Regions from separate parts of the Homo sapiens genome. Here region 2 is linked to region 1. The links come from fine-mapping of genetic effects on gene expression. A gene starts in region 1. The other region holds a variant in brackets. All regions are shown on one strand. Distances are between the middles of the regions. Region 1 holds the start of ENKD1 (enkurin domain containing 1). Region 2 overlaps GFOD2 (Gfo/Idh/MocA-like oxidoreductase domain containing 2).

What was found. PIP is the estimated chance that this variant, and not a neighbour inherited with it, causes the effect.
Region 2: its variant is the best candidate, but not a certain one, in a credible set for the expression of ENKD1 in whole blood (TOPMed, PIP 0.66).

The regions. Positions count from the first base shown.
Region 1 is chr16:67,663,427-67,668,794 of GRCh38, forward strand. ENKD1 (enkurin domain containing 1) reads right to left here and starts at 3,324. Exons shown (of 7, transcript NM_032140.3): 1 at 2,932-3,324; 2 at 2,645-2,839; 3 at 1,570-1,742; 4 at 511-636; 5 at 231-394; 6 at 1-130. The coding sequence starts at 3,016. C16orf86 (chromosome 16 open reading frame 86) reads left to right here and starts at 3,388. Exons shown (of 4, transcript NM_001012984.3): 1 at 3,388-3,646; 2 at 3,870-4,099; 3 at 4,452-4,672; 4 at 4,774-5,329. The coding sequence starts at 3,545. The coding sequence ends at 5,174. RefSeq lists silencers at 2,896-3,165, 3,506-3,555, 3,576-3,625, 3,706-3,755.
Region 2 is chr16:67,707,374-67,712,741 of GRCh38, forward strand. All of the region lies in intron 1 of GFOD2 (Gfo/Idh/MocA-like oxidoreductase domain containing 2), which reads right to left. Among named protein-coding and RNA genes, the nearest start is that of GFOD2, 9.3 kb to the right of the region's middle. RefSeq lists enhancers at 1,957-2,735, 2,736-3,513. The variant C/T (reference allele first, on the strand shown) is at 3,015.

The DNA.
Region 1 (5,368 bases):
CAGCTTGGTCAGTGTTTCCAGCCGCTGGTTCTCAGGCATGCGCGTGTGGCCTGGGGGCATGGCAGGGTCCGGCTGGCTCTGCTTGCGGGCCTCGGCCTCCCGCCGCCACAGGTCCCTGCGCTCCAACAAGCTGTGGGTACACAGGCTCAGAGTTGATGACCCGAGGGCAGAGGTTGGTTCCCACCCTCCACAGGTGTCCTTCACCCTGAGTGTCGGGCAGTGAGACCTACTAATGTGGCACATGGCCCTTCTGCGTGGCATTGTAGTGCTCCTGGGCCTGCCGCTGCTGCTCTAGCACTTGTGCCAGGACCTGCAGTGAGCAGGAATGCCTCCGGGGGGCTCTCTTGGCAGCTCGTGCATTGTGACGAATGAAGTCCACCCCCAGGCCTGGCTCCTGCAGGACACAGCAAGCGTGGGTGGGGGCAGACAGCATTATGTTGTGTCCCTGAACACCCCCCCCACACCAGGAGCCCTGCCCAACCACCATCTAGCCCCCATACATCCTCTCACCTTAGCTTCGGGACCTGGTGGGGTTGGCTGGGGACTAGATACATGGGGTGGTGGGAGGCCAGGGCCGCAGCGGGAGTGCGCCCGCAGGAAGTGGGCAGACTCTGTCCCAGAGGCAGGGCCAGGCTCCTGGAGGGCAGGGCACAGCAGAGAGAGCAGGCAGGCTGAGGTCTGGGGCTCAAGCTGCAAGACCCTGGCCATCTTGGCCCTTCTGACCTTTGCATCCATGTCCCTCGGGCCCTCTTCCCTCTTCAAGGGACACTTGTCCTCATCAGCACACAAATGTGTGAGTATGTCAGATTTTTAAGAAAACAACAAACCATCTCTCCTTCCACCTCAGTACTGGCCCAGCTACCACTCTCTTTCCTCCTTCCTAGCCAAGCTTCCTGGCTCTAGCCCTGCAAGGCTCCTAACAGCTGGCCTCCAAGTCCTCAAATCCAGGCGGTCAATTCCTTGGTCTCGTTGTCCTCAACCTGATCGTCAATAACTCCTAGGTCTCACTCCTGAGATCCAGGCCTGAATTTCCATCTGCTTCCTGGACACACTCCCACCCCCTGGGAACCCCACAGATGCTTCAGCTACAACACATTTGTGTGACCTTGCCTTTCCTCTCACTCCTGCTCCTCCTACTGAGTCCCTGAGACAGAGCCCCCCACCATACCCCTGCCCTTCCCACTGTCCTCAGAAATAAGGGCTGAAAAGTGGCTTTTGTGGCCCCTGACGTGGGTCCAGCTGACTTCTTGGCCTAACTTCACGCCCTTCTTTCCTCACAGTGAACTGTACCTAGCATCTCCACTGCTGCGTGCCCTGTGGTCTGTGAGGTTCCATCTTTTGGGAATGTTCTCTTCTGCTGTCCCTTTGACTAATTGCTACTTGCCCTCAGGATCAGCCCCACCATCACTACTTCTGAGAAGCCCCCCAGCCTCGCCCTGCAGCAGAGCCAGGGTCTCTTAGTCCTCTGTTACCTCTGTGACTTCCCTCCCACCCCAGAACTCAGATCAGGGTACAGTTGCCTGTTGGCCAACAAAATGGATAATACTTCTGGCTCCCTGAAGCAGGTACCTGGAGCTGGGCCTTGACCCGGGACTCCACCTTGTCGTACTTGGGTGAGCGCCACAGAGCTTTCAGGGGCCTGGGCTGGCCCTGCTCCCGGCTGCGCTCCTGTTCTCTGAAGCGCTTCTGAATCTCCCTGATCCGCCTCAGGTTCTCCTTCTCATGGTCCTTAGGGTCCTTCCCTGGAGAAAAGATGCCCCCAGGTTCTGCCCTACATGGGGCCCACACAGTCCAACTTCCACTAGTTCACACACAGGCCTGCCCCCTGCCTCCTACAGAAAGAGCTCCCTGACCTCTCCAACTACCTTAGACCCTACACACACTCTCCCTCATCACCGTGTTCCCTTCCTCATGTAGTAAGTATCACAGGATGATTTTCTCCATTATTATTATTATTATTATTATTTGAGACAGGGTCTCACTCTGTCACCCAGGCTGGAGTACAGTGGCATGATCATAGCTCACTGTAGCCTCAACCTCCCCGGCTACCTCAGCCTGCCGAGTAGCTGGGATTACAGACACACTCCACCATGCCAGCCTGATTTTTGTATTTTTTGTAGAGATGGGGTTTCACCATGTTGGCCAGGCTGGTCTTCAACTCCTGGACTCAAGTGATCTGCCCGCCTGGGCCTCCCAAAGTGCTGGGATTCCAGGAGTGAGCCACTGCGCCCAGGTGATTTCCTCCATTATTATAGTGAAGTACACCATTGAAGTACACCATAGATCATCTCATATATGACATTCATCTCTTGATCTTTGTATCCCACCTTGACTCAGTGATGGCTCATGCTTATCTTCAGCCCTGTGTTCTAGCATCTATATGGCCTGGCACACAGTAGGCACTCAACAAACAAATTTAATGGGTAACAAATGCATAAAGCAGAGCTAGGGCTTCGTGGGAACTACCTCATTCAGTTCACCTCCTTCGAGAAGGTAGCATATTTCTCCCCCTTTTATAGTTGGGGAAACTGAGACTCAAGAGATGCAAAGCCTGGGCCCACGTCAGGGTGGAAAGAGCAGCTGCTTTTGATCTCTTTCCACCCCGCACTGCCTCTCTGTCCCTTCTTCCATTCCTGGGACTTACTCTTGAGAGAGGCCCCAGGACCTAGGGAGATCCCCTCGAGTTGCAACAGCACGTCCCCGACGCCGCGCTGGCCGCGCTCCAGGATCTCTCCGGCACCGGGACCGATGCAGGGGCCACGGGGAGCGGTGGTGTCCAGGGCCCGGTCGGAAGTCAGCAAGTCCAGCTTCAGCGCGTTTCCCTCGAGGCGCCCTTGAGCTGTGGGGCGGAGCCGGGCGGAGTCCGGGGCTCAGAGGTGGAGCCAGGGCCGACCCCTGAGCCTCGCACCACCGCCAAGCCCCCGGACTCACCCGAGGTCGGCCGCCTGTAGTTGTCAGGACAGAGCGTCGGGTCTGGGGGGATGGGCCCCGAGATGCGGGACGGGCCCTCGCACATGCCGCCGGCGCCGCCCAGCAACGGTGCCCCGAGGCCTGCAGGGCTGTTTACCTCCCTCCCCGGGCCCCCTTCCCCAACCCCGGGCCCCCTCCCTCGCCCGGCACCCTGACCCTGGCGTGCCCGCCACTCCCGGGCCCCTGCCGGTCCCCGCCTGGGCCCCGGCCTCGCTCGCCACCTCCGCGACCTCTGCTCCCAGCCCACTTCTCGGTCCCGCTCGCGGCCTCTCCCCCGCGGCACTCGGGCAGGGGCTCACTCGAGAGGTTTTGCCGCCAGCCGCTGCCACCCGACGGGACTTGTTGTTGCCGGGCAACCGTGGCTTCCGTCCCCGGGGTCAGGGCCCACTGACCCCGGCGCAAAGCGTCCTGGGGCTTGTAGTTTCGGCCGAGGGTGGGCTCCGCGGTCGCCGGTTTCTCTTCCCAGCTCTGCCCTCGCTTGCTGGCCGGTCTCCGGGGTCAGCGCGGGGCCACCATCCAGCCCCTTGGGGCCCGCCCCAAGCAGCTGTCGAGGACGCACTCAGCCTGCGCAGCCATGGCCTCGGCAGGGGCGGAGAGGCGGCCGGGGGTCCAGGAGGCGACGGTCGTGGGGCAGGGACAGCTCACGGAGGAGCCCGGCAGCGCTCAGACCTCCGAGGTGACCGTCAGGCTGTTTAACCTTCAAACACAGGGCCGCAGCGCTCTGAGAGGTGGAACTGAGCGCCCCGACCCGCTAACTGCCAGGCTGGGCCCTCCAGGCGGGGAGGGGCACAGGCTGGTGTCCTTATTCCCGTTTCGGTGTCTAACGTTAGGTGTTCAGTGACGGATCCCTATGTCCTTTGCCCGGCCATGGTGACCGATGGCCTGTGTGTCATCTCTAGTGTCCAGTGGCGGGAGACCAGTTCCTGGTGCCTGCCCATGAGGCCCGCGGAACCCAGAGTGAAGACCAGCGCCCAGCAGGCGCAGCTTCGGAGTCGGAGCTCCAGGAGGAAGGACCCAAGCTGGGGGAGGAGCGGCCCAAGCCGCATGCCGGGGCGCTAGAGGAGAGAGGCCCCAGGCCCGTGGTCTCCATTGTGAGGCCCCGTCATGGTCCAAAGAGAAAGCCTGTCAAGTGAGGGGGCTCTCGGGGGGAAGGAGCTGCAGCCCCGGGGTTGGGGCACACACCACAGTAGGATTCCTAAATCCTGCACTCCTGCAGGGAGGATTCTCGTCCCCAGCCACTACCATCACTCTCCTCCCGTTCCTCAAGAGCCCCCGTGTAGGGAGCAGCAGGAGAGTGGGAGCTTCAGGGCTTGTAGGGGCCTGGGCTCACTGGCCTCTAAGCCTCTTGGGCCTGGGGTCTCATTGACCAGGAACGGGACAGGCGTCGAGCCCTGGGGCTGTGGGCAGGCTGGGCTATTCCCTGGGCCAGGGAATGGGAGCCAGGGCTGGAGCCTGGCTCAAGTCTCTTGTCCCTGGCTCAGGTCTCTCAGCCTCCCGGGCCTTCGTGCCCATCTTAAGGCTGAAGCTGAGCTGCCACCCAAGCTGCCGCTGCAGGAGGAGGAGCCAGAGGACAGCCAGAGTGAGCCCTCACCATCTGCCAAACAGCACAAAAAAGCCAAGAAGCGCAAGAGCCTGGGGGCTCCCGTGCTCCACGCTGTGGCCAGCATGGTGTCTGCACCCTTAGAGACATTGAGGCTGGAGCGTGAGTGGCAGTCCCTGGACTGTTCCTTCTCCCCCTGCCTGTGGGGCCCGACATGGCACAACCTGGCGCTCTAGCCTCTGCCCTGCCCTGGGTCTTTGCAGGAAAGGCCCAGCGCCTGCGGCCGCTGTACCAGTACGTCAACTATTGCAACCCTGAGCTGAACCAGGCAGGGAAGGGGGACGGGGAGGCTGAGGTGGAGGCAGAGGCAGAGCTGGCCCCGGTTCCCGAGGAGGGAGGTGTGGAGCAACTGCAGGCCTTGCTGCCCTTGGCAGGTGAGCTGGGCCCAGGCCTCGCTTTGCCCTGTCCCAGTCCACTAGTGACCCCCACCCATGCCCTGGCTCCCCTCGGAGAGGAGGCTGGAGAGGAGCCTGGGGGCTTGCCCAGCTTGGGGGTGAGTGACCACAAGGCCGAGGTGGATAAGTCAACCCAGGTGGACATCGACAAGATGCTGAGTGTCTGCACTGCTCCACTTGTCCCCCCGCTCTCTCCTCAGTACAAGTGACTGTCCCGCCCCACTGGTGGCTCCCCTCCTTCCACGCCTGAATTTGGCTTCAGGCTTCCTGTGGGCCTAGGCCCTCTGGTGGCGGGGGCAAATTTGGCACCTGCCCCCACTTGGGACTTTGGTCTTGCTGAAAATAAATATTTTTCTTTTTCAAAGACTTTGTGATTCCCCAGATAGGTTGCCTGAAATGGGTA
Region 2 (5,368 bases), 44 kb after region 1:
GACTTACAATCCTGAAGTTTGGAGAGGATATGCGGCAAATGGAACTCCCATACATTCTTGGTGGGAATGTAAAACAGTACAACCACTTTGGAAAATTGACAGTTTCTTATAGTTAAACATATATCAACCCAATCACAGCAACTCCACTTATAGATATTTATCTAAGAAAATAAAAACATAAGTCCACAAAAAAAATTATACAAATGTTCACAGCAGCCTTATTCATAATGGCCCCACACTAGAAACAAATGTTCACATCATAAATTATGATGTCACACAATGGAATACAGTAAAACAGTAAAAAGGAATTAACTATTAATGAATTTTTTTCTTTTTAAAAATTTTATTAATTTTTTTGTAGAGATGTGAGTCTCACTGTGTTGCCCAGGCTGGTCTCAACCTGCTGGCCTCAAGTGATCCCCCTGCCTCAGTCTTCTAAAGTGCTGGGATTACAATGAACCACCTCGCCTAGCCTGTATGAATCTTAAAAACATTATGTAGAGTGAAAGATGGCAGGCCCACACACAGAAGACCCATACTGTAGAATTCCACTTTTTTGAAATTCAGGAATAAGCCAGCCTTATTTATAGCAACACTAGTCAGAAGGCGGCAGTGGCGGTGGTGGCTGAGGCGGAGGGAATCGAACAGAAAGAGGCACAAGGCTACATTCTAGAGTGATGGAAATGTTCTGTATCTTGTTTGGTGCTTGGGTTACATGGTGGTACAACTGTCAAAACTCATCAAATTGAATATTTAAGATCTGTGTTTTTAATTGTATGTAAATTATACCTTAATTTTTAATCACCTTAAGTAGTTGTGCCCAAGGACATAGAACAACCTGTTCACACCTTGCAAATTCAGTTCTGTAATCAAACTAAATGGATATGTGTGAATTAGAAGTCTCTTTCCTTTAAAACAAAACAAAAAAACCTGTAAGCTTACTTTTGGGGACATCATCGGTACAGGCTGGGGCCAAGAGAATAAGTTTTCTGAGAAAGAAACTTCAAGCTAAGGCCCAGTAGGCTGGTGAATCCCAGCACTTGCTGAGCGTATCTGAAGATGGCACTTTTCCCTGGGCAGTGTGTCACACTGGGTGAGTGGCTGAGCTCCAGATGTTAGGAAGTCCTCACCACTCATGAACAACTCATACTGAGGAAGGGAGGGTTCAAAAGGGGTTCTCCCGTATCATTTCTGGCAAGCAAATTTAATGATGGCTATTCATAGAGCATTGGTATGTATCAGTTTGCAGTTGTAGCTATACAGGTTGGGCAATAAGACTTGGCACTGAAAGAGTGGCAAGCCCTCACTTAGTGTCAGCCTCCACTGTGCCTCAAGGGCCACTCACCATGAGACTAGCCCCAGATCCAGCCCCACACCTTCCAGAGCACTGCATCCTGAGAGGCACCTCCACAGACTTGATGCACACCTCTGTCCCCTCAGGCACATTCCAAAAGGCCAGTGTCAAGACCCATACTGTAGAATTCCCTTTATTTGAAATGCAAATAAGACTCATTTGATAATTTGATTTTTCTGTGAATTCTTTTCAGTAATTTCATCCTAATATAAAGCACTGGGGCCAGAGGTGAGGGTCACGGCCCTAGTTATGAAGTGAGACAGATCCTCAACCTAACTTAAAACAAACTGTAGGGCTGAGAGCAGTGGCTCACACCTGTAATCCCAGGACTTTGGGAGGCCGAGGCAAGTGGATCACTTGAGCCCAAGAGTTTGAGACCAGCCTGGGCAACATGGCAAAACTCCTTCTCCACAAAAAATACAAAAATTAGCTAGGCATGGTGGCACAAACCTGTAGTCCCAGCTACTCAGGAGAGGAGACTGGGGTGGGAGGATCTCTTGAGCCCAGTAGGTCAAGGCTGCAGTGGGCTGTGATTGCACCACTGTACTCCAGCCTGGGCAACAGAGCCTATCTCAAAAGAAAAAAAAAAAAAAGATTGGGACATTAGCTAGGCTGATTAGGTGTTTTAGGTGCTTGTGTATAAAATGACACCTGTAATTTATGTAGATTGATTAATAAATACTTATTAAGCACAGACTATGAGCCAGGCCTCAGCAAAGTGCAGGATACTTCAGTAAGCCAAACAGATATAGTTTCTGCTTGCAAAGAGTGTACAGTCTAGGAGGAGAGATAAGATAATCAAATAATCACATAAATATGTAATTATGATTTGAGATTAAATGCTATAAAGGAAAAGAATGGTGCTATGAGAGACTCAGCAGGATATAAATTAGCCTTATTATTATTATAATGGAGTCTCACTCTGTCACCAGGCTGGAGTGCAGTGGCATGATCTCAGCTCACTGCAACCTCTGCCTCCTGGGTTCAAGCATTCCTCCCACTTCAGCCCCCTGAGTAGCTAGGACCACAGGCACATGCCACCACACCCAGCTATTTTTTTTGTATTTTTGGTAGAGACGGGGTTTCCCATATTGCCCAGGCTGGTCTTGAGGCTGGTATTCAACTCTTGTCCTCAAGTGATCCGCCCGTCTCAGCCTCCCAAAGTGTTGGGATTACGGGCGTGAGCCACCGTGCCCAGCCAAATTAGCCTTATGTTTATCTATTTTTTATTTTTTGGGGACAGAGTGTCACTCTGTCACCCAGGCTGGAGTGCAGTGGTGCACTCTTGGCTCACCACAACCTCTGTTTCCTGGGTGCAAATGATTCTCCTGCCTCAGCCTCCCGAGTACCTGGGATACAACTGTGAGCCACGACACCCAGCTAATTTTTTTTGTATTTTTATTTATTATTTTTTTAGAGACAGGGTCTTGCTCTGTTGGTCAGGCCGGAGTGCAGTGGGGCGATCATAGCTTACTGTAGCCTCGAACTCCTGGGCTCAAATGATCCTCCTGCCTAGGCCTCCCAAAGTGCTGGGATTATAGGCATGAGCCACCACGCCAGCCCTGTATTTTTAGTAGAAACCGGGTTTCACCATGTTGGCCGGGCTGGTCTCAAACTCCTCACCTCAAGTGATCTGCCCGCCTTGGCCTCCCAAAGTTAG[C/T]CTTTGTTTTTTGAGACGAAGTGGAGAAGTGCAGTGGTGCGATCTCAGCTCACCGCAAGCTCCGCCTCCCGGGTTCACGCCATTCTCCTGCCTCAGCCTCCCGAGTAGCTGGACTACAGGCGCCTGCTACCATGCCCGGCTAATTTTTTGTTTTTTAGTAGAGACGGGGTTTCACCGTGTTAGCCAGGATGGTCTCGATCTCCTGACCTCGTGATCCACCCACCTCAGCCTCCCAAAGTGCTGGGATTACAGGCATAAGCCACCGCGCCCGGCCAGTTAGCCTTATTTTTAAAAGTGTTCAATGACAGATTTATAATGCACTTTGAGTTCCACGTGAGAAAGGTTTCACACTCTGAGGCTCAATTACGATAAAAACACTGACATTGTGAGTCATTTTCTATCCACTGACCCCTACCCTGCTCCTTGACTATCAATCCCCACTTGCTGTGCTCTATTCAGAGTTGAGCTCAGTCTCTCTCCCCAACTGCAAGACTCATTGCAGAGGTACCTATACCTGCCGCCATGGTCCTGAATAAAGTCTTCATCACCATGAAAAAAACCCAAACATTGACATTGGTTGTGCAGTAAAAGGCACAGCAGCCCAATGTCATTAAAAACCCAATTTGTGATTAACAGACACTCCCCTTCCCCAGAGCAGTAACCAGACCCAAAAGCATTTCTTCAGAATGAAGACTCCAAAAGAGGTAGGAAGGAAAAGTACAATGTTCAGAACTTCAAACTGCAATTATGCAACTCTCTCATGATGCTCTGTGTTCAGGCATCATGGCTGAAAACCCTGGATTATTGGTTGTAAATCATACTACAAATAACCAAGCTTCAGCTATCTCATCTTTGTCAAATACAATTAAATCCAGTGGTCAATTCTCACCTTCATCCCACTTTGACCTATCAGCAGCATCTGACATGGCAGGTTCCAACCTCCTTGAAACACTCTTCACCCGACTTCCACAACACAAATTTCTTCTGATTTTCCTCTTACCTCTCTGACCACTTCTCGGTTCCTTCTGCTCATTTCTCCTGATGGTGACTGTAGTAACCATGGCTCAGTCCCCAGTCTATTTCTCTTTTCTATCTATACTCACTCCCTTGGTGGTTCCATTCAGTGTCATGGCTTTTAAATGTTATCTATTCCCTGATGACTCCCAAAGTTATCAGCCAGGTCCTCTTTAAGCTCCAGACGGGTGCAAACAACCGCCTATTAACATCTCTACTTGGATGTTTAATAGGCATCTCACACTTAAAATGTCCAGAACTAAACTCCTGATGTTTCTCCCCACCAAACATACTCTTCCCACAATGCCTTCATCTCAGAAACTGGTAACACAAACTTTTCAAATGCTCAAGTTAAAACCTTGGAGTTATCCTTGAGTCTTCTTTTTCTCTCACACTTCACATCTGATCCATTAACAAGTCTTGCTGGCTCTCTACCTTCAAAATATACCCTGCATCCAAGAACCTCTATTGTGCAGACATCCACGTGGCTTTCTCTCTCTCTCTCACGTTTCCTTCAGGTCTCTACTTCCATGTTGGCTTTTCAGAAACAGGTGTATTCTTCCATTGTTTGTCTCTCCCCACCATCCCTGCTAGAATGTATCCTCCTTGAAGACAACAAATTTTTTGTCTGTTTTGTTCATTGCTATATCCCTAGTGCCTAAAACAAGGTCTGACATGTAGTTGGTGCTAAATATTTGCTGAAAGAATGAAAGATTTCAGACCTAGTTCCTGCACAGTCAATAAACTAAGACATATATACTGAGCCCATCAAAACCATACTATAGAAAACCATATATACTGAGCTCACCAAAACCATCAGTAGGCTCTTGCAATGTTTAAAAATGTAATAAAGAGCTCCCTCTCCCTCTCCCTCTCCCCCTCCCCCTCCCCCTCCCCCTCTCCCTCTCCCTCCACGGTCTCCCTCTGATGCCGAGCCAAGGCTGGACGGTACTGCTGCCATCTCGGCTCACTGCAACCTCCCTGCCTGATTCTCCTGCCTCAGCCTGCCGAGTGCCTGCGATTGCAGGCGCGCACCGCCACGCCTGACTGGTTTTCGTTTTTTTTTTGGTGGAGACGGGGTTTCGCTGTGTTGGCCGGGCTGGTCTCCAGCTCCTAGCCGCGAGTGATCCGCCAGCCTCGGCCTCCCGAGGTGCCGGGATTGCAGATGGAGTCTCGTTCACTCAGTGCTCAATGGTGCCCAGGCTGGAGTGCAGTGGCGTGATCTCGGCTCGCTGCAACCACCTCCCAGCCGCCTGCCTTGGCCTCCCGGAGAGCCGAGATTGCAGCCTCTGCCCGGCCGCCACCCCGTCTGGGAAGTGAGGAGCGTCTCTGCTTGGCCA